Linked DNA regions of Homo sapiens: regions 2 and 3 are each linked to region 1. Evidence: fine-mapped QTL for protein levels in blood plasma. A gene starts in region 1. Each other region holds a variant in brackets. All regions are shown on one strand. Distances are between the middles of the regions.

Region 1 (8,182 bases):
ACATGCATTCAATTACCAGCCTTAGCCAGTGTGTTTTTACCAATTGTGTTCAGACTTCCTTTCACAATCCCAAAGAAAGTATTCATCATTTAAGTTTTGTGTGATCATGAGAAGAATAACATGATCCCAATCTAACCAGAACATGCCAGACAATTTCCAAATTAAGGACATTCTCAAAACACCTAACCAATTCTTCTGCAAACTGCCATAGTCATCAAAAACAAGCAACATCTGAGAAACAGCCATAGCCAAGAAGAACCCAAAAAGTCACGATCACTAAATGCAACCTGGTGTCATGTTGGGATCCTGGACAGAAAAAGAACATTAGGAGCTGAAAATTTAATTCTACACCAAACCTGCACATGCATGTTTATAGCAGCTCTATTCATCACTGTCAAAATTTAGAGGCATCCAAAATGTCCTAGATGAATGAACAAATGAACTCGGGTACATCCAATCAATGGAATTTTAGTAGTAGGTGAATGAATAAAGGGACTTGGATATATCCAATCTTTGGAATTTTATCAGCACTTAAGAGAAATGTGCTATCAAGTTATGAAAAACATAGAGAAACCTTAAGTGCATATTACTAGGTAAAAAAGTCAATATAAAAGGTTACATATTGTGTGATTCCAACTATTTGAAATTCTTAAAAAGATAAAACTGAGGAGACAGCAAAAGGATGAGCATTGCCTGGGGTTGTAGGGGATGGAGTGGTAAGTAGGCAGAACACAGAGAATTTTTAGGGCAGCTAAACTATTCTGTATGATACCATAGTGGTGGGTACCGTCATTATACCTTTCTTAGTTAATTGATATTATGCATGTCATTATACATTTCTCAAAACCCAAAGAATGTACAGCACTTAGAGTGAACCTAATGGAAATGATGGACATTGGGTGATAATGACATGTTAATGTAGGTTTATTACTTACAGCAAATGTACTACCCTGGTTCATGATGTTGAAGGTAGGGGAGACTGTGCCTGCGTGTGGGGAGGGGTATATGGGACTTTTGATACTTTCCACTCAATTGTGCTATGAGCATAAAACTACTCTAAAAAATAAAGTCTGTCAATAATAATAATAATAATAATAAAAACTAGAACAACAGGTAAATCCTAAGCAAGTCTGAATAAAGTATGGACTTCAATTGACAATAATGTATCAATGTTTGTCAGTTGTGACAAACGTACCATAGTAATGTAACAGGTAAATAGGGAACCCAGGTGAGAATTGGAATGATAACTATCTTTGCAATTCTCTGTAAACCTAAAATTATTCTAAAACTTTAAAAAAAAATTTAAAGGGAAGGTATGAAGGGGCAAAGAGAGGAGAATTCCACAATTTATCAGTGTATGCGTACACTGCCTCATTTGTGTTTAGAATGATAGCAGCGGCCTCCAGATAATTCTTCTCTAATTGTGTGTCAGACACTGTGCTTAGTCCCCCTAAGCCTTGCCTCCACATCTGTCCCATGAGGACCTGGGCCGACTTTCCTCCTGGGGTTCTTGTGCAATGGGCCTTTATGTACTCATCCCCAAGAATTACAGAGCCCCTCAGTGCTGGGAGCATGGGGAGGTGGAGGGGCCTGAAGTTACTGGAACCTGCTATGCACTGCGTGGCTGGGGCTCCATGTCCTCTGCAGTCTCCCCAGAGCCACTGGAAAAGGACATCGTTTCCTTAGTTCATGGAGATACGAAGAAAGCTTGGGAAACAGCCTTAGCACAGTGCCTGGCACGCTGTAAGCTCATTGGAGGAAGTGTGCCATTTCTCCCCGTGGACATTCTTAAAGATGTGGGTGGCATGCAGGGCGTCAGGAGCCAATGACACCAACAGAGAGGGGCTCGCATTGGAGCCTGGCCTTGAAGGATGAGGCGGTGTGTGCCAGGCAGAGAAGGAAGGGAAGGGGATCCCAAGTGCAGGGAACAGCAGAGGCAAAGGCAGGAAGTGGGCGCATGCATGGAGTATCTGCAAATGGTGGGACAGGGTTTCAGTGTGGCCAGATTGCAGTGTGTGTGTGCATGTGTGTGTGTGTCTGTCTCTGTGTGTGTGTCAGTGTCACTGTGTGTGATTCTGTGTGTGTGTGCCTATGAGTATGTGTGTGAATGTGTCTAGGTGTCAGTATGTGTGTGTCTCTGTGTGTCTATGAGTGTGGTGTCTTTGAGTGTGTTTGTGTGTGTTTGAGTGTGTCAGTGTGTGTTTGTGTGTGTCTTTGTATGTGTGTCAGTGTGTATGTGTATTTATGTGTCTGCGTGTGAGTACCTGGAAATGAGGTTGGAAGGGCAGGATGAGCCAAGGAGGTGACTGCCCCACAGCCTGCTCTGATGCTGTGCTGCTGAGTCTAGAAGGGAAAGAGCAAAGCAGACGCTGGGATGGGAGTCACAGGAAGGGGAAGGGCCACAAGGAGCCAGTGGGGAATGTGCAGTGTTACCTGGCAAAGCTCAGAGAAGCACTTCCCAGAAAGACCCCGGAGTCCACATGTTTCCTTGTAAATATGTTTTGTGTTCCAACTGCAATCTGCCTCCAGAAAGAATCTGCCTGCCTCCCAAGGATCAAGTAGAATTTTCCATTTTGTAGGAGACTCCCCTTGTTGAGCAAAGCAGCTTTGCCTTGCCTATGTCCAAATAATCCTCCAAAATACCGCATGAGAGAGCCTGTTCGTGGAGGTCAGGGCCTCAGCGGGGTGTTTGTGAGGATAGTGAGGACGGACCCCTGGGTGAGGCAATTTTAGGAGAGAGGCACACAGCTTCAGAAATGGCTTCTTCCAACAGATTCATGCAGAGACTGAGCCTCTGAGTAAATTGGTCAACATCTATAGCTATGACCACGGAATTCTCAAACAGGTGGATCGTTCATAAAATCCAAACACAGTTACAAGTTTTGGCCTGCATAGTGTTGAGCTACAGCTTTATTTTTAGAAAATTTTAATTAGCTGCCAACCAATTTCATATAAACACATCTGGATTTGGGGATGTCATTTTAAAAATCAGACAGTGTGACAATACTGAGCCTAATCCCTGCATTTTCTCAGTCAATTGGAGATGAGTGTTGACCTCTATGGAGGCAGAGACTCTCTAGTTTGCCACAGTCCCCATCACTCCCTATTGCCTTATCTCAAACCCAAAAGTCAGTTGCCATTTAATATCACACTAAACAATAGTTTTCTTATGGCTGAATTAAGGAAAAGTGAACAATTTCTTCTTCTGAAAATCTATGAAAGGTGAGGTGATAATATATAATGAGGGCCACATCTTCCCTGTAGAAGTGAGTTTCTTTTTAAATGCTGCATATGTAAATAACAAATGTCTGTTTTCAAAGTATACAACTTAAGACCCTGTCATGAGGCAAAACGATTCTGCTCCACTTTATGTTAACAGCTTAGCCCAGTAAAAATTTAGTATGCAGCTATAAAGGAGACGTTGTTATTGTCAGCACACTGCAAATGGATGATGGGAGAGGCTAAGTGGTTTGGGCATAGCACTCAGCTAAACACATGCTGTGGCCAGGATTCCACCTGGGTCATTCTGGTGTGGGACTGTGCCTGTAGCAGGCAGGGCAGCCTGAGCTCTCTGAATGAGACCTGAAGGTAAGTATTTACAACAGTAATCTTATATTAAAAATTCCCTCTTTACCAGCCTCTCAGAGCCTGGTAGAATTCCCTGATAAAAAAGAGGGAATTTTTAATGTAAATTTCCCTGCCTCTAGAATTAGGGTATCCTCTGCTTATGTAGTAACTTCAGATGGAAAAAGGAACTCAGACACTACGAAAACTTCGGCAACTTCAGTCACCCATTCAACAAAGATTTATTGAGAGTGGCAGGCAGGAAGAGATCAGACCATGGATGTAGAGAATCTCACTTTTAATTTTGAGATGTTCCTTTTCCTGCCTCTGTGAACTTGGACAAGCTCTTACATATCTCCAGAACCAATTCCTGCTTTTGTAAAAGGGGAGGAATCATTGCACTCCCTACTAGAGCGGATGTGATGAGGGAAAAGGAGAACTCAGGTAAAATGGGCTCAGTAGTTTGGCAGCTCGGATCATGTCATTATAGTTATTTTACTCCTCCATAGACATCACTGCTGGGGTCCTCTCCCCATCAAGGAGGGTCACTGTGAGGCTGAGTTGTCCTCCTATCCTGGCCACAGGGTGGACAGGGAAGGGCCTAGAGGAAGCGTTTGATGGCATGCAGGTAACCCCCCTTTTCACTGGATTACATCCAGCACTTTCCCTGCAGGAACCGGCTCCCTCGGAGGGGCGTGGCTGGGAGGAGCTGTGAGTAACGTGCCACAGTGTTGTAAAAACCCAGTGAGTGTTATAAAAACCCAGTCAGCCTGGCTCCTGTTGAATAGTCTACCCCCCTTGCACTCTACCTGACACAGCTGCAGCCTGCAATTCACTCGCACTGCCTGGGATTGCACTGGATCCGTGTGCTCAGAACAAGGTAAGAGCCTCGCTCCTTTAACAGCTTTATTACCTGCTGCCACTTCTCACTCCACCAAGGGCCTGGAGTTCCTTGGGCCTGCATTCCATCATGGGCAGGTGGGGGCTGAGCCCCAGGGCCGTGAGAAATGACTGGGTGTTTTTCTGGCATATCCAGTCTCCTCTTCACCATTTATTGCTGTTCTCTGCCCTTTTGTGATTGTCTTTCTCCTTCTTAACCCTAGAAGATGGCCAACTTCTAGGGTAGAAATCAGATCAGGACCATTTCCTGGGTCTGCCTCTTTTTATAAAAAATTCTGTGTTTTGTTTTAAATGGAGCACAAATAATACAAATCATCTTATCATTATGTGTTATATGAAACTAAATTGTCATTGTTCATAGTTGTTTTTCTTATTCTTTGGCAATGTTTTTAAAGGGCAGAGTAAATGTGAAAAGCAAAAAGTGATCAACCAGGGGTGACAGAAAGGAATAAGGAGATTGATCTGGCTACCCATACCAGCTTTGAACTTGCCCACTATGAGATCCTGAGCAATTTACTTACCTGTCTGAGCCTTAAGAGTCAGAGCTGTCACCTGGGATGACATATTAATAGCTACCTGGAAGAGCTCTTGTGTGGATTTCACAAGGTGGGAATCAAACCCTAGACCAGTACTTAGCACACAGGAGGTGTCATATAGAAACTGACTTCTCTTCTTCTGTTAAGCATGGGTTTTTATTGTACACATGATCAGATTCATGCAGTTCAGTGTGACGTTGGTGTTCATCCTATTGATTCAATGATTTCTCATGATCCTTGTCTTCGATCTTGTAGTGTGAACTATCTGGTTGAAATTCACCTCTCTCCACCCTGATTCACTTTGCCCAGGCAAATCAGACAACCACCCCACCTCACACCTTTCCTTAAACTCTTACTTCCCCACAAAAAGCTCCCCCACCCCCACAACCCCACCCACCCCACCCAAACCCCAGGCATGTTCAACTCTGGGTCAACATCACCTTTCATGATGCTTACCACATCCTTTCTCATTTTGGGCATCTGTCATGTCTTTTCTCATTTTGGGCATCTGTGTCCATATGGAGTCATGAGATAGAAATCCAGCCCTTTGGAGCTGAAAGTTTGGAGCAGTAACTTGTTTCATATCAGAAACAGAGATGACGGGATAGATTCCCTGATCAATGCTATTTAAATTCTCCCAAAGAGTGGTCTCTAAGCTCTTTCAAATCTGAGGCTTTCTCAATCATGGTGATTTCTTCAACACCTAGTCTGGTGGGGGGCATATAGTAGGTGCTCAGTAAATGCTTGTTGAATGAGTGAATGAAAGAGTGAGGAGTGAGCAGATGCAGGAGTTAATGAGTGAATAAATGATAAATGAGAGTTCGTGAGGCTCCAAAGAGTGGTACTTTTGTGACACTCAAGACTCAAGTCAAGTGGAAATGTGAGTAGACAGGCTGTTTGTCTAGTGACTCCAGGAGCCAGAAGCGTTCTTGGTCTACTCTGAAATCATGTAGGCACCTGTCAGGGTAGGGGGAGGCCAGCGTGTAGTCCTGCACAGCTGAACTGCTGCCTGCCACTGACTCACTTGCCTTTTGTCAAACAGGTGAACGCCCAGCTGCAGCCATGAAGATCTGTAGCCTCACCCTGCTCTCCTTCCTCCTACTGGCTGCTCAGGTGCTCCTGGTGGAGGGGAAAAAAAAAGTGAAGAATGGACTTCACAGCAAAGTGGTCTCAGAACAAAAGGACACTCTGGGCAACACCCAGATTAAGCAGAAAAGCAGGCCCGGGAACAAAGGCAAGTTTGTCACCAAAGACCAAGCCAACTGCAGATGGGCTGCTACTGAGCAGGAGGAGGGCATCTCTCTCAAGGTTGAGTGCACTCAATTGGACCATGAATTTTCCTGTGTCTTTGCTGGCAATCCAACCTCATGCCTAAAGCTCAAGGATGAGAGAGTCTATTGGAAACAAGTTGCCCGGAATCTGCGCTCACAGAAAGACATCTGTAGATATTCCAAGACAGCTGTGAAAACCAGAGTGTGCAGAAAGGATTTTCCAGAATCCAGTCTTAAGCTAGTCAGCTCCACTCTATTTGGGAACACAAAGCCCAGGAAGGAGAAAACAGAGATGTCCCCCAGGGAGCACATCAAAGGCAAAGAGACCACCCCCTCTAGCCTAGCAGTGACCCAGACCATGGCCACCAAAGCTCCCGAGTGTGTGGAGGACCCAGATATGGCAAACCAGAGGAAGACTGCCCTGGAGTTCTGTGGAGAGACTTGGAGCTCTCTCTGCACATTCTTCCTCAGCATAGTGCAGGACACGTCATGCTAATGAGGTCAAAAGAGAACGGGTTCCCTTAAGAGATGTCATGTCGTAAGTCCCTCTGTATACTTTAAAGCTCTCTACAGTCCCCCCAAAATATGAACTTTTGTGCTTAGTGAGTGCAACGAAATATTTAAACAAGTTTTGTATTTTTTGCTTTTGTGTTTTGGAATTTGCCTTATTTTTCTTGGATGCGATGTTCAGAGGCTGTTTCCTGCAGCATGTATTTCCATGGCCCACACAGCTATGTGTTTGAGCAGCGAAGAGTCTTTGAGCTGAATGAGCCAGAGTGATAATTTCAGTGCAACGAACTTTCTGCTGAATTAATGGTAATAAAACTCTGGGTGTTTTTCAGAAATACATTCAAACATTGCTTGGTTTTCTCTGTGTCTGGTCCCAAATAAACTCATTAAGTAGTCCCCATATATCAATGGAAAAACAATCTAAACAGGAACTTCCAGTTCCCCACCCTTCGCAAGTTATCTCTTTCTGGAATCCTTCTTTATAATTGTATCCATTGGTCAGTGGTGTTTGGTGTTTATTGAAGTATAATAACTAGGATCCCTGTTTTCAGGTGGGACACCTGGTATATAATGTGATTAAATCATTTGTCAGGGACTCATAGATGGTAAGAGGGCCGGTAGGATTGGAACCCAGGAGCTCTGACAGCTGAGTCTACAGGGTTGAGGAACCTCCGCTACTGATTCATGTCAGAGCTGCCCATTCCCTCCCCCACCCGAAAGACCCCGGCCTTGCAAAGCTCAATTCTGGAGAAGAAATGAGTTTCATTCCTTCATTCTTCATTCTTGGAGAAGAAAGGCCTAGTTAAGTACAGTGGCCCAAGATAAGGGCTATAAAGGAAGGGGGAGAGGGCTACAAGGAAAACCAGAGAGAGAAGGCAGAAACTGCTGTAAGATCTGGGCTTGAGTGTAACAGGGGAGGGAATAGTGGAGCTGGATTTTGGAAAGAGTATCTGTGGGAATAAAATGGGGCAAAGTGGAGGCACTTTAGGCATTTGATAACATGAATGAAAGTGAATAGATGGGAAGTTTCAGATTCTGGGAGAGGTCAGGTGTCTGGGATCGGATGGGATGCAGCGATGAGACTGCCATTATTCATTTATATGTTAGTATGAAGGATCTGAAAGTTGTATTTTAAGAGTGGGGGAGAGAGGATGAACTGTCTCCAATGCCTTGTCACAATTCCACAACCAGGGAAAGGAGGAGCAGAAGCTGACGAAAGCACTGTTCTTTAGCATGTCTGATGGTGGCAGGGAGGAATGGCAGGTGGGGGGGAAGGAAAGCCTTTTACATTCACCAACCTACTGGGATGCACACTGAGGACGTCAGAGGCCAATCCACAGTGCCACAGCCTCAGAGTGACATTTGGATGTCATCATGATCATCAATAAAAAGAGCACTTAT
Region 2 (8,182 bases), 13 kb after region 1:
GGGTGGACAGCTCAGGAATTTTTAAAGCACTCCGAGCGATCGCACTGGACACCCAAAGTGGAGGTCCACTCCTCTGGGCACTGTTCAAACTGCTTTCCCTGCATAAGCTCTTTCATCTTCACGACCACCCTATTGTCAAGACTGTCCAGGGAGTGTAAGGAGTTTTGTCACTTTCCAGGGTCACAGAGTTAGTAAGAGCAGAGCCTGGAACCTCCCCGGGCAGCTGTGCTCTCAAGCACTCATACTGGAGCAGAGGAGTCTGCCGGGGAGGCAGCCCCAGGCAGTGGAATGAGCAGAGCCCTGGGTTTCAAATTCATTCTGCCTCCCACTGTCTGGGGAGGCCTCAGACAGTCATTTCATTTCTCTGATTGTCTTAGCCTTCTTGTCTGTGCTTTGGGGGAATGTTATCACCACGGCAGAGTGCAGGGAGGATTCGGTGAGATGGTGTTTATGAAGCTCCTGACAACATTTCTGGGACATAGCCCAGTGCTCGGTTATTTATCCTTATTATTAGACCACGTTGCCAAAAATGGGTCAGCAGGTGGAAAAGCAGATATTGAAAAGGATCATCAAGAGACATTGACATCCTGGGCCAGGCACAGTGGCTCACGCCTGTAATCCCAGCACTTTGGAAGGTTGAGGCGGGCAGATAACCACAGGTCAGGAGTTTGAGACCAGCCTGTCCAACATAGTGAAACCCTGTCTCTACTAAAAATATAAAAAAAATTAGTCAGGCGTGGTGGTGGGTGCCTGTAATCCCAGCTACTCAGGAGGCTGAGGCAGGAGAATCACTTAGACCTGGGAGGTGGAAGTTGCAGTGAGCTGAGATCGCACCACTGCACTCCAGCCTGGGCAACAGAGTGAGACTCTGTCTCAAAAAAAAAAAAAAAGAGAGAGAGAGATTGACATGCTGAGGGGCAGGTGTCAGTAGTCAAATGCAAAGGCAAAACAGAGGCAGCGTCCAGGAGGGAGGACCACGTAGTACAATAGACATAAACATGCAAGAGGGAACAAGGCCAGGATGGCTGGGGGCATGGGAAGGGGCCATGCCAGGCAGCACCTCCCACTGTCAACTGCACACCCTCACCCACACTCTTGATTGTGGCATCTGTGTTTAGCCACTTTGTTGTGTGGAAGATGTTGTGGCCACCCCATCTTCTTTAGTACTCCTTTTTCTCTTCCCTCCCTCTGTCCCTAGCCTATGCCCATTTTTTTCCTAAGCCTTGCCTGGAAAAGTTGAGCAGACAACTGACATTTACTAAAAAGAAGCCAAGGTGGGACCCACTGGCTTCCCTACCCCAATACATGCACATCGTCAACCAGGGCCCTGCCCCTTTGAAAAGAGACATTGAGGCCAGGCACGGTGGCTCACACCTGTAATCCCAGCACTTTCAGAGGCAGAGCCGGGTGGATCACGAGGTCAGGAGATGGAGACCATCTTGGCTAACACAGTGAAACCCCATCTCTACTAAAAATACAAAAAGTTAGCTGGGCGTGGTGGTGGGCGCCTGTAGTCCCAGCTACTCGCGAGGCTGAAGGAGGAGAATCACTTGAACTGGGGAGGTGGAGGTTGCAGTGAGCCAAGATCACACCACTGCACTCCAGCCTGGACAATAGAGCAAGACTCCGTCTCAAAAAAAAAAAAAAAAGAGACATTGAAAGAAGGAAGGGAGGAAGGAAGAAAGAATGTATTCATTTTTTTTTTTTTAGAATTTGAAAGTAATGATTGTACATAACAACAAACCAACCAGAGAGCACAAACAAGTCAAAGGAAGAAAGAGCACAGGCCCGCCCATTCGAAGGCACCACCCTTCGCGCTTGGGCACAAATCCTCCTTAGACACATACACAAATCTTTTAATTGGATGGTAATATCACAGGCTGATATCTTTTCTTTCACTTAAAATATCACAAATCCAAAAAAAAAATCACGAATGCTGCAACATCTTTTCAAGTCGGAATCGTGTTTTGTGTGTGGATATATTGTAAGTTATGACAGGACCATCCCACTGCTGGAAAATCAGAATGTTGTCAATTGTTTGTTATTATAAACAACGCCGTTAAAACCCATCCTTGAAGAGAATTTGTTTTTTTAAATCATTCTCCAAGGTCCAAGATTTTGCTTTTGGAAATCAGGGGGTTTTGGGAATTTTTTTTTTTTTTGAGACAGGGTCTCACTCTGTCACCCAGCCTGGAGTGCAGCTGTGGCACTATCATAGCTCACTGCAGCTTCTAACTCCTGGGCTCAGGTGATCCTCCTGCCTCAGCCTCCTGAGTAGCTAGGACTACAGGCCTGCACCACCACATCTGGTTAATTTTTTTTATTTTTTGTAGAGATGGGGTCTCACTGTGTTGCCCAGGGTGGTCTCAAACTCCTGGCCTCAAGCAACCCTACCGCCTAGGCCTCCCAAAGAGCTGGGATTACAGGCATCAGATACTGTACCTGGCCAGAAAATAGTTTTTATTATTGAAGAAGTCAAACATTTATAAGTAAAGAGGACCAGAGTAATGAGTGCCAACGTATCCGTCATCCAGCTCAAACAACTGTCAGCTCGTGGCCCATCTTGTTGCATCTATGCGAGATCCTACTTATCCCCACTCCCTGGATTGTTTTGAAACAAATTCCAGACAGCATGTCATTTCATTCATGAGTATTTAACACGTATCTCTCAAAGATAAGGCAAGAGTACACATGTTTAAAACTTTTGGTATGGACTGCCAAACTGCCTGCCAAAAAATTCTGCAACAATTTCCATTCCCACCAACAGTATAAGAATGTGGCCATTTCTCCTCGGTCTTGTCAACCCCGGGTCAGTGTCCAGTTAAGAAGAGGTGAGGGAATGAGACAAAACTGAAATAGATAGTTCAACAGAGGTGATTAAAAATGGGAAACCAGGCTGGGTGTGGTGGCTCACCCCTGTAATCCCAGCTTTGGGAGGCCAAGGTGGGTGGATCACCTGAGGTCAGGTTTTCCAGATCAGCCTGGCCAACATGGTGAAACCCCGTCTCTACTAAAAATACAAACATTAGCTGGGCGTGGTGGCGGGCACCTGTAATCCTAGCTACTCGGGAAGCTGAGGCTGGAGAATCTCTTAAACCCGAGAGGTGGAGTTTAAGTGGGCCGAGACCATACCATTGCACTCCAGCCTGGGGGACAAGAGTGGAACTCCATCTCAAATAAATAAATTAATTAAATAAAAATAAAATGGAAAACCAGTTACAAAGATATTGGAAAAGCTAAAAGGGCAACCTGGGCACAATGGAGCAATCCAACAGCCAGAAGCTTCCCACGGGAAGCCCCATGGCTGGAATGACAAATGGTGGAGGCGGGGTTGCCAAAGCCCGGGGGCCAGGGCACCCAGCTGGAGCCAGGAAACTTTGGCAAGCCTGCAGCTGCAATGGAACCCTGGAGAGAGCAACCACTTCAGGGACACTGGAGTCACAGTGACTGCTGAAAATGCCACCAGAAACAGAGAGAAGCAATGTCTTGGCTTCTTCCCTTCCTCTGCTCCTACTGGCCACATCTCATCAGAAGCAATGAGCAGGGGAGCCTGGGAAATGAGTCTGCATCCACAGCCTCACCTCAACCCCATATAGACCAGTGGGGAGTGTGGGGCGATGGATCTGAGAGTCCGCAAGGCAGTGACGGGCACTCTGAGCATTGCTGCTTTAGTTTAGCTTGTTTAATGAATACGATCTTTTCTGGACGAAAATATTCTTTAAGTCATGAGGGAAGGCATGAGTGTAGACTACAGAGAGAGAAGCCACACTAGTGGGGAGAATGCAAATGAGGACAACCCATTTTCAGAAGAATCTGTCAATAGCTCTCTGAGTTTAAAATCACAATCCAGGCC[G/A]GGAGTGGTGGCTCATGCCTGTAATCTCAGCACTTTGGGAAGCTGAGGCGGGTGGATTGTTCTGAGCCCAGGAGTTTAAGACTATCCTGGGAAACATGGTGAAACCTCATCTCTACAAAAAGTACAAAAAATTAGCCAGGCATGGTGGCACACACCTGTAGTCCCATCTACTCAGGAGGGTGAGGCAAGAGGATTGCTTGAGCCCAGGAGTTAGAAGCTGCAGAGTAAGTTATGATTGTGCTGCCACTGCACTCCAGCCTGGGTGGCAGCACAAGACCCTGTCTCAAAAAATAAATAAATAATTTAAATTAATTATTAATTAAATTTTAAAAATAAAATCACAGTCATTTCCAGAGATTTATGCTACATATATTTGCACATCACAAAGATGTGTGTGTAAAGATGTTCATGATGACATTGTTTTTCTTCTGTTTTTTTTTTTTTAGCTTTTATTTTATTATTTACAGTACCAAAGACTGGAAGCAATGGATGTACTCACTCATAGGTACTGGCTAAAAAACATGAATGAGTTAGCTGGGATGATTTCTAAGCGAAATCTATGCTAAATAAATAAAGATTAAAAAGCTAGTGTGTTTCAGAGACTGAAAGCTCACAGTTGCCAAGTGTTTCTATATGTCCAGCACTGTGTTACGTACTCAGCGCACATGGTTTCATTTATGAACTACCATGATCCTATGAGGTAGGGATTTTTCCTTTTTAGAGGGGAAAACTGAGGCAGGACCAGAGTTTGAACACAGGCAACCTATCATTAAATTTTGTGCTCCTAAGTGCTAAGAGAAGGGAATGATTTAACAGGAATGTGTCAGATGCAATGAAAGTGGGCAGAGACCTACACCTAGCCTGGGACAGACAGAAGCCTTTTAAGAGATGACGCTTCAGAGGGTCATTAGACCATGTAAGGAGGAATGGGAAGGGTGCTGTAGGCAGAGGGCTAGCCTGGGCAAAGGCTTGGAGGTGAGGAAAAGCAAGGCTCCTGTGGAGAAACCAAGCAGAAGCAGTGCGGTGCTGCTGGGATGCAATGCCTGAGGATAGAATGGGGGAGCACAAAGATGAGAGTCTTAGCAGGTAGCAGGCACAACATACAGAGTGGCTGAGGAGTATTAATGGGGGGCCTGTTAGCAAGGATGCGGGCAGAGTTAAGGGAAACCAACAATGGGTTACGAGACACCTGGGCTAGCAACTGCAAGTCCAAGAGCCACCACCTCCCGTAGGCTAAAAGAGGCAAAGAGGGAGACCAGAACTCAAGAAAGAACGGTGGCTGTGGCTTTAACACTAGGGACCCCCTCCTGCTACCACCACCACACACCACTGGAGCTGGAGCTTCTGGTAGAGAAGCCTGCAGCTGGGTTGAAATGGAGGCAAGAGAGTAAATATCCCAGCTATTTTTCTCTCCTGCATTCTGACATCTTTCTCATGCCTCCCAATGGCCAAACCCATCCAGAAGGAAGAAGGCTCAGCTGAGGCAGTAGGTGGAGGTCAGCCTTCCAGGTCGGAGAAGGACGAGAAAGGTGGTGAGTGAGTCCAGAAAGGCAGGTGGAGGATACCCAGCACACGTGGTTAAGGAGTTGATATTTTATCCTATCCGTGTCCAGGCTCCATTGAGGGGTTTTAGGTATGGAGGCAACATGGTCAGATATGGATTTTAATAAAGACCTCTCTGGCAGCAATTCAGTAGACAGAGCTGTGGGCCATGAGGGATGAGCCTGGGAGACCAACTGAACCACGGAAATAAGGGCCAAGGTGGGAGATGGTAAGGCTGAAAAGGGCATAAGGTGGAAGGAGATAGAACTTACCCAGGTGAGAGATGAGAAGGAGCTGAAAAGGAAGTAACAGAAAGGACACAAATTAGATTCAACTTTGATTTTTTTGAAAAATTGAGAGGTCATAGTGAAGACAAAAGCCAGGCTTCATATTTGGATAATCAACTGAATTTTAGTGCCAATAACTGAGATTAAAAATAAAAATACAGGGCCGAGCGTGGTGGCTTATGCCTGTAATTCCAGCACTTTGGAAAGCCAAGGCAGGCAGATCTCTTCAGCTCACAAGTTTGAGACCAGCCTGGGCAACTTGGTGAAACCATGTCTCTACAAAAACAAACAAACAAACAAACAAACAAACAAACAAAATATATATACACACACACACACACACACACAGAAATTAGCCAGGGTTGGTGGCACATGCCAGTAGTCCCAGCTACTTGCAAAGCTGAGGTGGAAGGATGGCTTGAGCCCGGGAGGCAGAGGTTGCAGTCAGTCAAGATCATGTCACTGCACTCCAGAGCCTGGGCATCAGAGCCAGAGCTTGTCTCAAGATAAATAAATAAAAATAAAAATAAAATTTAAAAACTAAAATAAAAATACAAAAGTAGCAAAAAAACAGGTTTAAAGAATGGTGACTGATGAGTTTTGTTTGGGACAAGTTGGGTTTAAGTTGCTTATAGAACATCCAAGTGTAAATGTCTAGCAGGCATTCAATTTGAGTTCAAATATTGAGTGTTCTCTGTCTGGAGATTTGGATATTAAAGGCACCAGTAGGCCGGGCGCAGTGGCTCACTCCTGTAATCCCAGCACTTTAGGAGGCTGAGGCAGGCGGATCACCTGAGGTCAGGAGTTCCAGACTAGCCTGGCCAACATGATGAAACCCCGTCTCTACTAAAAATACAAACATTAGCTGGGCGAAGTGGCACATGCCTGTAATCCCAGCTACTCAGGAGGCTGAGGCAGTAGAATCGCTTGAACCTGGGAGGCAGAGGTTGCAGTAAGCCAAGATTGCACCATTGCACTCCAGCTTGGGTGACAAGAGTGAACCTCTGTCTCAAAAATAAATAAATAAAGCTACCAGTAGGTAAATTCTAGTTAAAACCCTGAGAGTAAATGAGATGTCCCAGGGAGAAGGAGCATCTAGAAAAGTGGGCGGGTTGTTTGGGGAGCACCAGCACTGAGAAGTGAAAGGAAGAAGAATCTACAAAGCTATAGACAAGGAATGAAAGATCTGAGAAGACAAGAAGAAAGAAGCTTCCTGGGAGCAGAGGCTGGAGTGATCAGTAGCATTAAATATGGTGGTAAATAAGAGACAAAGAGTATCTGCTTCTTAGGACTGTGAAAGGAAAATATCTTGGGCTCCCAAAAACACTAAGCTAAAAGGAAAATTCAAGCTGGAAACTGCTCCAGTCAAACCTGCCTCCCGTTCTATTCAAACTCATCCCTCTGCTCATTGAGATAGATGCATATTCTGATGGCCTCCTTTGGAAAGGCTTATCAGAAACCCAAAAGAAGGCAACCATTTGTCTGTCACCTACCTGTGACCTGGAAGCCCCCTCCCTGCTTTGAGTTGTCCCCGCCTTTCTGGACAGAACCAATGTACTTCTTACATATACTGATTGATGTCTCAAATCTCCCTAAAATGTATAAAACCAAGCTGTGCCCTGACCACCTTGGGTTCACGTCATCAGGACTTTCTGAGGCTGTGACATGGGTATGCATCCTCAAAGTTGCCAAAATGAACTTTCTAAATTAACTGAGACCTGTGTCAAATTTTGGGGGTTCACAGAACTTAGGAGGTTGTAGGTGACTTTAGAAAGAGCAGTTATGACTCTCTTGGTGGATGGATTGCTGTGGGGACTCTCTTGGTGGATGGATTACTGGGGGTTGAGGTGTGAAGTGAAGGTAAGGTAGGCATTGAGGATGTAGATTACTCTGTTTAGAAGTCTGGATGAGGAAGGAGAAAAGTAGGATGATACCTAGGAGGGACCGCCAGGCCAGTGGATGAGTTTTATGGTATTAGGGGAAGGTAGAGAGGGAGAAGCTGAGGATGCTGCAGAAGAGGGGAGATTGTTAATGAAGCCCAGACCTGGAGGGGCCAAGAGGGCACAGATCCAGGCTCTCTCTGTGCTCTTATTGCCTGATCACTTGTCCATCCTCTACATCCCTCTACTAGTCAGGGAGCTCCATATATGCTGTGCTGAGAGTGTTGCCTGGCACACAGCCATGGCATACTTGCTGAGTGAATGGATAAGTGATTCATACTTGCTGAGTGAATGGATAAGTGATTCATACTTGCTGAGTGAATGGATAAGTGATGGTTGAGTGGATGGTCAGGGATATAAACCCGGATAGAAGCAAAGTGTCTTTGGCAAAACTTCTGTAACTTGCACAAGATGGCCAAGGTCTAAAACATGACATCTCCAGCCAGATAATTGTCTGTAGTAAGGAAATCGTCAAGATTTACCTTACAGATACACACCCAATAAGCAAAACCTCCAAACACAGCAGGCTGAATGAAGACCTCTATGGTGAGGGTTGTTGG
Region 3 (8,182 bases), 11 kb before region 1:
TGTATGGAAATGCCTGGATGCCCAGGCAAAGGTTTGCTGTAGGAGTGGGGCCTTCTTGGAGAACTTTTGCTGGGGCAGTGCAGAAGGGAAATGTGGGGTTGGAGCCCCCACACATAGTCCCTACTAGGGCACTGCCTAGTGGAGCTGTGAGAAGAGGGCCACTGTCCTACAGACCCCAGAATGGTAGATCCACCAACAGCTTGCACTGTTGTGTGCCTGGAAAAGCTGCAGACACTCAGCGTCAGCCCATGAAAGTACCCAGGAGGGAGGCTGTACTCTACAAAGCCACAGGGACAGAGCTGCCCAAGACCATGAGAACCTACCTCTTGTATCAGTGTGATCTGGATGTGAGACCTGAAGTCAAAGGAGATCATTTTGGAGCTTTAAAATTTGACTGCCTGGCTGGATTTTGGACTTGCATGGGCCCTGTAACCCCTTTCTTTTGGTCAATTTCTCCCATTTGGAACAGCTGTATCTACCAAATACCTATACCCCCATTGTATCTAGGAAGTAACTAGCTTGGTTTTACAGGCTCATAGGCAAAAGGGACTTGCCTTGTCTCAGATGGGACTTCATACTGTCAACTTTTGGGTTAATGCTGAAATGAGTTAAGACTTTGGGGGACTGTTTGGAAGGCATGATTGGTTTTGAAATTCAAGGACATGAGATTTAGAGGGGGCAGTGGCAGAATAATAAGATTCAGCTGTGTTCCCTTTGAAATCTCAACTTGAATTGTATCTCCCAGAATTCCCATGTGTTGTGGGAGGGACCCAGGGGAAGGTAATTGAATCATGGGGGATGGTCTTTCCCATGCTATTCTCACGGTAGTTAATAAGTTTCATGAGATGTGATGGGTTTATCAGGGATTTTGGCTTTTGCTTCTTCCCCATTTTCTCTTACTGCTACCATGTAAGAAGTGCCTTTTGCCTCCTGTCATGATTCTGAGGCCTCCCCAGCCATGTGGAACTGTAAGTCCAATTAAACCTCTTTTTCTTCCCAGTCTCGGGTATGTCTTTATCAGCAGCATGAAAACAAACTAATACACCAGGCATAAGAATGACACAGTGGACTCTGGGGACTCAGGGGGAAAGCGTTGGGAGGGGGTGAGGGATAAAAGAGTACAAATTGGGTTCAGTGTATACTGCTTGTGAGATGGGTGCACCAAAATCTCACAAATCACCACTAAAAAACTTATTCATGTAACCAAATACCACCGGTTTTCCAAAAATCTATAGAAATAAAAAAAAACTAAAAATCCTTTGTTGTGTTTCTAACTACTAATATGTAACATATTTTTGTGCCCCACAATGATTACAGTTAATAATCAGCACAGAGGAACTCTTAAAGGACATATTTTGCCTCTAGATCAAGCCTAATGCCCTTCTGTAGGCAGCTGGGAGGTTTTGTAGCTGTTCCTTAAACAACATCTTTCTTACCTTACCATGAAGTCATTAGCTATTGACACCTTAGAAATTAGAGCTGAGAAAGTCTTTAGACCTATTAAATGAGAGTGACCTGTTTTATGTGAGCACATATTCACCATCTCTCTCTAGCCTTTGAATTACTCACCCTTTGTCTCACACCTCCCTGGAAGTATCTGTTCCCTTTCTTTCTCTCCTTTTCTGTGGTCCTCTCTGCTTCTTGAAGCCAAACCAGGTCAGGCTGTGAACTGAAGAGGTACCAAGATTTCCCCTGTGCAGCTTTCTGCTGGACTCTTCCTAGAAGCATGCATCAGTTACTGCCAGATTTAGTTTTGGATTGTGGTATCACTTTTCATCTTTTTCCACCAGAGTAAGAAAAAAATACTGTATTTTCTCTACTAGAATGGGAGAGCTGGGCCTAACTTTAGCAAACGAGTACTTGTTGAAATGAAACACTTCAACAAACTTGAGGGAAGTCACTAAAGAAGTCAGTTTCCTCATCTTTATTTCAGGTGATAATAATGGCTACTCCTTATTGAGGACTATCGAGATCAGATGGGGCTGGGAGCAGTGGCTCATGCCTGTAATCCCAGGACTTTGGGAGGCCAACACAGGAGGATTGCTTGAGTCCAGGAGTTCAGGACCACCCTGAGCAAAATAGCAAGATGCTGTCTCTGCAAAAATAAATAAACAAACAAACAAATAAATAAAATAATTTTAAAAAGATCTAATATAGTAATAATACACAGTGAAGGGCTTTGACAATGATATTGTGCTATGCAGATTCATAGTATGATTATAAATCAGGTAGACAGATAAACTTGATGAAACAGGAAGGAAAAACTCTTCATACATCAGACTGGTCTTCCTGGATAAGGTTGCCACATGCTATCTCAATGGAGTCACAGATGCTTCTGAAAACTGGAAATATGAGTCTTGCAACCAAATCTGGGAAAGACATGAGCCTAAATCAGCCTGATCACTGCAAAATATGAAATCACATCACTGCTAAATATGGAAATTTGTCACAACATTTTGTTAGTGTAAGTTCTAAGCCTAAGACAAATTAAGTTGTTGAATTTATTCAGATAATTGTTTTAAAGGGAGAGTGAAACAGGTTTCTGGCCCCTTTTTTGTTTTCAGATCATTTACATTGAAAGAAGGGGGAACATGTTACTAAATCAAACCTGCCCCATGGGCAGGAGTCTAATTCTCTATCCCTCCCTTTGTCACACTCAGATGACACCGTCCTTCTGTAGGGTTTGTCTCCGCCATGTTTGAAATGGTGTACAAGTTCTCAGGATGAGCTGGTTATGGGATGCCTATACTGTTTTTCCTCTTCCAGTGCCCCAGTGGAATTTCTTCCCCTTGGTCATTCGGGAGCGGCAGCCTGTGTTATCTCAGAGTTTTCCAAGTGGTGACCCCAAAGGACTCCAGAGCAGGGCCTGGCTTGGGGTAGGGAGAATAGAGGACATTGGGCTAGAAGGGGGAGATGTAGGGATTCATGAGGCCATTAAATTAGCAACATATTGCCAGGCACAGTGGCTATAATCTCAGTGCTTTGGGAGGCCAAAGCAGGAGGATCACCTGAGTCCAGGAGTTCAAGACAAGTCTGGGCAACAAAATGAGACCCTGTCTCTACAAAAAAAACTTTAAACTTAGCTGGGTGTGATGGTGTGTGCCTGCAGTCCTAACTATTTGGGAGGCTGAGGTGGAAGAATCACAGGAGCCCAGGAATTCAAGGCTGCAGTGAGCCATAATTGTGCCACTGCATGCTGGCCTAGGTGATAGAGTGAGACCCTGTCTCTAAAAAATATTTATTTATTTATTTATTTAGAGATGGAGTCTTTCCAGGCTGGAGTGCAGTGGTGTGATCTTGGCTGACTGCAATCACTTCCTCTCAGGTTTAAGTGATTCTCAAGACTCAGCCTCCCAAGTAGCTGGGTTACAGGGGCTCACCACCATCCCTACCAGCCAATTTTTGTGTTTTTATTAAAGAGAAAGTTTTTCCATGTTGGCCAGGCCGGTCTCAAACTCCTGGCCTCAAGTGATCTCCCTGCCTCAGCCTCCCAAAGCGCAGGGATTACAGGCATGAGCCACCGTACCATGCCTAAAAAATATTTTAAAAGAAAAAATAAAAATTAGTAATATTTATTGTAAACAAATGTACAATTCATTTTCAAATGACCGTAGATAGCATTGTGGTAAATAAAATGCAACTGTATTTAAAGGCATTACCAATCCCATGTACTATTGTGCCACTTTTTGTTTTCTTTTTTCTTTTTTTGATAGAGTCTCACTTTGCTGCCCAGGCTGGGGTGCAGTGGTGCAATCTCGGCTCAGTGCAACCTCTGTCTCCTGGGTTCAAGCGATTCTCCTGCCTCAGCCTCCCACGTAGCTGGGAATACAGGTGCCCACCACCAGGCCAGGCTAATTTTTGTATTTTCAGTAGAGACGGGGTTTCACTATGTTTGCCAGGCTGGTTTCTAACTCCTGACTTCAGGTGATCCACCTGCCTCGGCTTCCCAAAGTGTTGGGATTACAGGCATGAGCCACCGCACCCGGCCGTGTGGCACTTTTTGATAACATAGGTTAAGTGAATACATTTTTTTGAATCAATGACCTGTTTTGGACTCTGGCCCATCGTTCACTAGCTGTCTGGTTTTGAGTGATCTTTTATTTTCTCCTCTCCATAATGTGAATAATAACAGTACCTGTCTCCTAAGCGTGATTCAAGGATTACATGAGATTATCCACACAAATTCCAAGGAGTAATAGCTCAAGTGGTAGCTGCTGTCACTCTTACCATCACATTGTTTCTCAGTCACAGTTTGTGATTGAGTGCTGCGACGGGCAGGTCTGCACAGAGTGTGGATGTTGTAAGAGGATCCTCATCCTTGGCAAGGTTGACAGCCCCTGGTCTGGATGAAGCCTAAGGTGAAACCTTGAATGTTCCCCCGCAAACCTCTTTGTTGACCTTATCCGTAGCTTTCTTCCAGCACAGGCAATTACATTATAGGTTCTCTCCCTTCTGGGAACAGCGCTCTCCTTCTGGGAGAATAGTTGCTCCTCCTCCAAACCCAGCTGCATGTTTCAGAGGCCTGGGCCATTCATCATAGAATCCTGCTCTTTGGCCATGGTTGACAAATCCAATGGCAGGAATG[C/T]GACTCAAGACCAACCTATCATATCTCTCCCTGGGATTGTTCGCACTTCTGCTTGGCTTGGAACTGGTGACACCCGTGTTTCCCACGAAGTAGAGAAAATTAGTCCGAGAAAACAAAGTACAAATGCGGAGAAAAGCTGAGGTGATACAAAACCAAGCATGATGGTGACATTCATGTTCCTTAATCTATGAGACTGGGTGGTCGTATTAATCATGTGCTTTTATTTTTTCAACTCATGCTGTTTTGATACCTTTGGGAACCTGATAAATTCAGGGAGAGACAGACCTCCCTGGGTTAGCTAATTCCTAAAGATGACACAGTATGTTTGGGATCACGCCTGTCACATGTAAACCAACCATTCCCTTTATCTAACTCTCACATACCAAGCCAGTATTAACCCTTACCCTAAATCTACCTGGAGACAGGACCAGACAGCCACACCACGTGCCCCAGAGCCTGCTGGAATTATTAAAACCAGCACATCCGAGACCATATTCTCCATCCAGCCTCAACTTTCCCTCGGAAACGATGATAAGGGCTCTGGCCTAGGTGTTCCCTCGCTCCTGCTTTCACCACCTGACCCAAACCTCATGTTTCTCCTGCTGAAGCCCTGTGTGCTGTGGCATGCTCCTTCTCTTTGGAAAGGTGAGTACAGTCATGCCTGGGTATTTAAGGAGGATTAGTTCCAGGACCTCCATGGGTACTCAAATTTGCAGATGCTCAAGTCTCCTCTGTAAAATGGCATGGTATTTGCATATAACCTATGCACATCTTCCTGTATACTTTAAGTCATCTCTAGATTACTTACAATACCTAATACAACATAAGTGCTATGTAAGTCATTGTTATAGTGTATTATTTATTTGCATTATTTTTCATGGTTTTTTTTAAATTTTTTAAAAAATATTTTTGATCTGCAGTTGATTGAATCCACAAATGTGAAACCTGTAGATACGGGGGTGTGGGGAGGAGGTAACTGTAGTAAATTATTTTTTCAATGGCACCAGCCTCTTTGTGTCATCATTCAGTCACGTTCATGAGTTAAAATCCCACAGGTACGTTTTGGGACAGTTGAGCAGCCGGCAAGGTGACTCAGTGTTCCATAAGGACCGTGCCTCCTTCTGCTCTTGGCTCGTTAGCTGACTGTGCCAACCACATATACTGTATTATCTTTAGGAATTAGCTAATCCAGGGAGGAATTAGCTCTACTTGGGAGGGCATTGCCGGCCGGTGGGGTGCCTGTGCTTTGGCTGCCATTGCCTTGTGCTACCTCTGCTGTGCCCTTTCACAGTTTTCTAGTCTAAACTGTGGCAAGGGAAGGACCTCAGATCTTGCTTTGCACAGGTAGTAGTACCATTGGGAGTGAGAGAGGTCCCCAGTGCACACCTTACTGGACCAAGTGACCAGGCAGATGTGAGGTTAAGCAGGCAATTTGGGTAATTAGTACAGTAAACGCTTTCTGGAGAGAGGAGGAGCAGGGAGTGGCTGCCCCTAGGGTGCTTTGAGGGCACCGAGACTGATGACCTGCCTGCCAAGACCGTAGACAGGGCTCACCATAGAGAATTCAGGAGCTGGGCATTCAGGCCCAGGCACAACTCCCTTCTTGTAACAAATCTTCTCTTACTCTGGTGGACAAAGTCCTGGACAAGTGAGGTCCTCCTTGAACAGTCCATCACAGGTTGACATTGACTGTTGGGCCCCTGAGCATTGGGACTCTATGAAGATACTCACCCATTTGATTCCAAATTTAGACAGGCCCATCTCTAATGGTTGGCGGCGAGGTGTAGGGTGTCTCCCCATGGAAAACTGTGACTCCTAGAAACCTTAAATATTGCTATATGGGCAAATCTCTTTGTTGTTACTGGCCTTGCTGCTATTGTGACCTGAGCCCATGACCCTCTATACTCATTATGTTTTGGGTCATAGGTACAGTACCCACAAGCTTCACACAGCTACTGAGGGCATCTTAGACAGGATGGAGCCAATACTGGGTCCTTGGGCATATTCTATCTCTATAGGGTTGTAGCTTTGTTCATTCTCAGTCACCTGGTAGATGTCATTGTGCTACAGGAGATTATAGGTCTCAGAAAACTGGTGTTGTTGAGATACAAAATGGCCTCCTCAAACAACTTCTTTTAAAATTTCAGGCCATCAGATAAACACCTAAATGAGTTTCTTTTTTGCCCAGGACTTAAGGTGTCTTTATAAAAATTCCATCTTGCCTCCATCACGTAAGGGGAGGAGGCCAAATGTAGGGCCCAAACTCTACAGGGATCAATTACCATAAATTGTCCCAAGGGCTAGGCAGATATGAGACTGATTTCTTCTATCATAATTGAAGCTACCTGGTGTCATCCTGCACACCATTCTGTTGACTTTTGATTTTATTACTCTTGGTCTGTGCCTTCCCAACAAAGCTCATATAGAGGCATGGTCCCCAATGTAATGATGTTGAGAGGCATTACAGGCATTTGGGTCAGGAGGGATCTGTCTTCATTAAAAGATTAATGTTGTCTTGTGGGAATGACTTCTCACTCTCATGAGAGTAGATTAGTTAACACAAGAGTGGGTTGTTATAAGGCTAGGTCCCATTTGTGTTTGGTTTCCTTTGCACATGCCTGTTCACTGCTCTCACAGGCATTCTCACCACTTGATGCTATCCACCATGCTATGTTGCAGCATGAAGCCCTTCCCAGATGCAGCTGCCCAATCTTAAACTTCCCACCATCCAGAACAGTGAGTCGAATAAACTCCTTTTCTTTATAATTACTTGGTCTCAAGTATTCAGTTATAGCAACAGAAAATGTACTAAGAAGTCAGTCTGGGTTCTTTCATTAATTTATGATCCAATGGCTCACACCCTCCTAATAAGCCATTGCTTTAACCAAACATGGCCAATGGTAAGACTCACATCAACTCCACTGGGTACTTAGTTGGGAAAGATATGGCCTTCCAAATGGACATGGCCCTTACTCAGAAGTTTATCACAAAAATAACACCACCCCAGACAACATCACCTCTTAATTTGATGTCAAAATGTCGGAGTGATGAGGTATCACCACTACAGCAATCATCAAAGTGTGAGCCATAGACTCACCTGGTCAGGTCTAGGAAAAAGAGCCAAACCATGTTCATCTTATCTTCCCTTGAGTGCCTGATACTTCACCTTGCTGAGAGTGGTTACTGAATAATGACTGAAGAGATAACATCCCCTTTCCCCCACTGTTGAGCTGTGTTTGCATAATTGCAGGCTCTTGAGAAATTCTTGTCTGCCTCTGGTAGGCTAGATGTCCCAACTCAAAGCACCACAGCTTTCCCTCCAACATAGTCATTAACCTCTGTGTGGTCATGACTGATATCCTTGACGTTTCCCCTATTGTCTGCTAACTCCTCAAGGGTAAGGACCATTTTTCTTGACTGCACTTCCAGGCAATCATTAACACTGAGGGCCTGGACATAGTAGGTGCTTCATGCGTGCTTTTAGGATGAATGAAAAAATGACTGAGTGGTAGTAGAAATGAGGTCGCATTAGGGTCCAGCCTTGCAGAGTCTCATTCCCCTGCTCATTCTTGTCTTCTCCTAAGCAGCATGCCACAT

Which allele goes with the higher level. Alleles are on the strand shown, and positions count from the first base shown. The strength of an association depends on the size of the effect and on how common the allele is.
For the plasma level of the protein whose gene starts at base 3,955 in region 1, G is the high allele of the variant in region 2 and A is the other (moderate association).
With allele C in place of T in region 3, the plasma level of the protein whose gene starts at base 3,955 in region 1 is higher (moderate association).

What was found. A credible set is the group of variants that fine-mapping cannot tell apart. PIP is the posterior inclusion probability: the model's chance that the variant is causal. The UK Biobank Pharma Proteomics Project read protein levels with antibody pairs (Olink). The fine-mapping took linkage between variants from a reference panel, not from the people measured, so its PIPs are less certain.
Region 2: its variant is the best candidate, but not a certain one, in a credible set for the plasma level of the FGFBP1 protein (UK Biobank, PIP 0.88).
Region 3: its variant is the best candidate, but not a certain one, in a credible set for the plasma level of the FGFBP1 protein (UK Biobank, PIP 0.62).

Annotation. Positions count from the first base shown.
Region 1 is chr4:15,934,513-15,942,694 of GRCh38, reverse strand. It overlaps FGFBP1 (fibroblast growth factor binding protein 1), which reads left to right and starts at 3,955. Exons shown (of 3, transcript NM_005130.5): 1 at 3,955-4,008; 2 at 4,224-4,444; 3 at 6,043-7,118. The coding sequence starts at 6,063. The coding sequence ends at 6,767.
Region 2 is chr4:15,921,193-15,929,374 of GRCh38, reverse strand. No RefSeq gene overlaps it. Among named protein-coding and RNA genes, the nearest start is that of FGFBP1, 13 kb to the left of the region's middle. The variant G/A (reference allele first, on the strand shown) is at 3,854.
Region 3 is chr4:15,945,390-15,953,571 of GRCh38, reverse strand. No RefSeq gene overlaps it. Among named protein-coding and RNA genes, the nearest start is that of FGFBP1, 11 kb to the right of the region's middle. The variant C/T (reference allele first, on the strand shown) is at 4,586.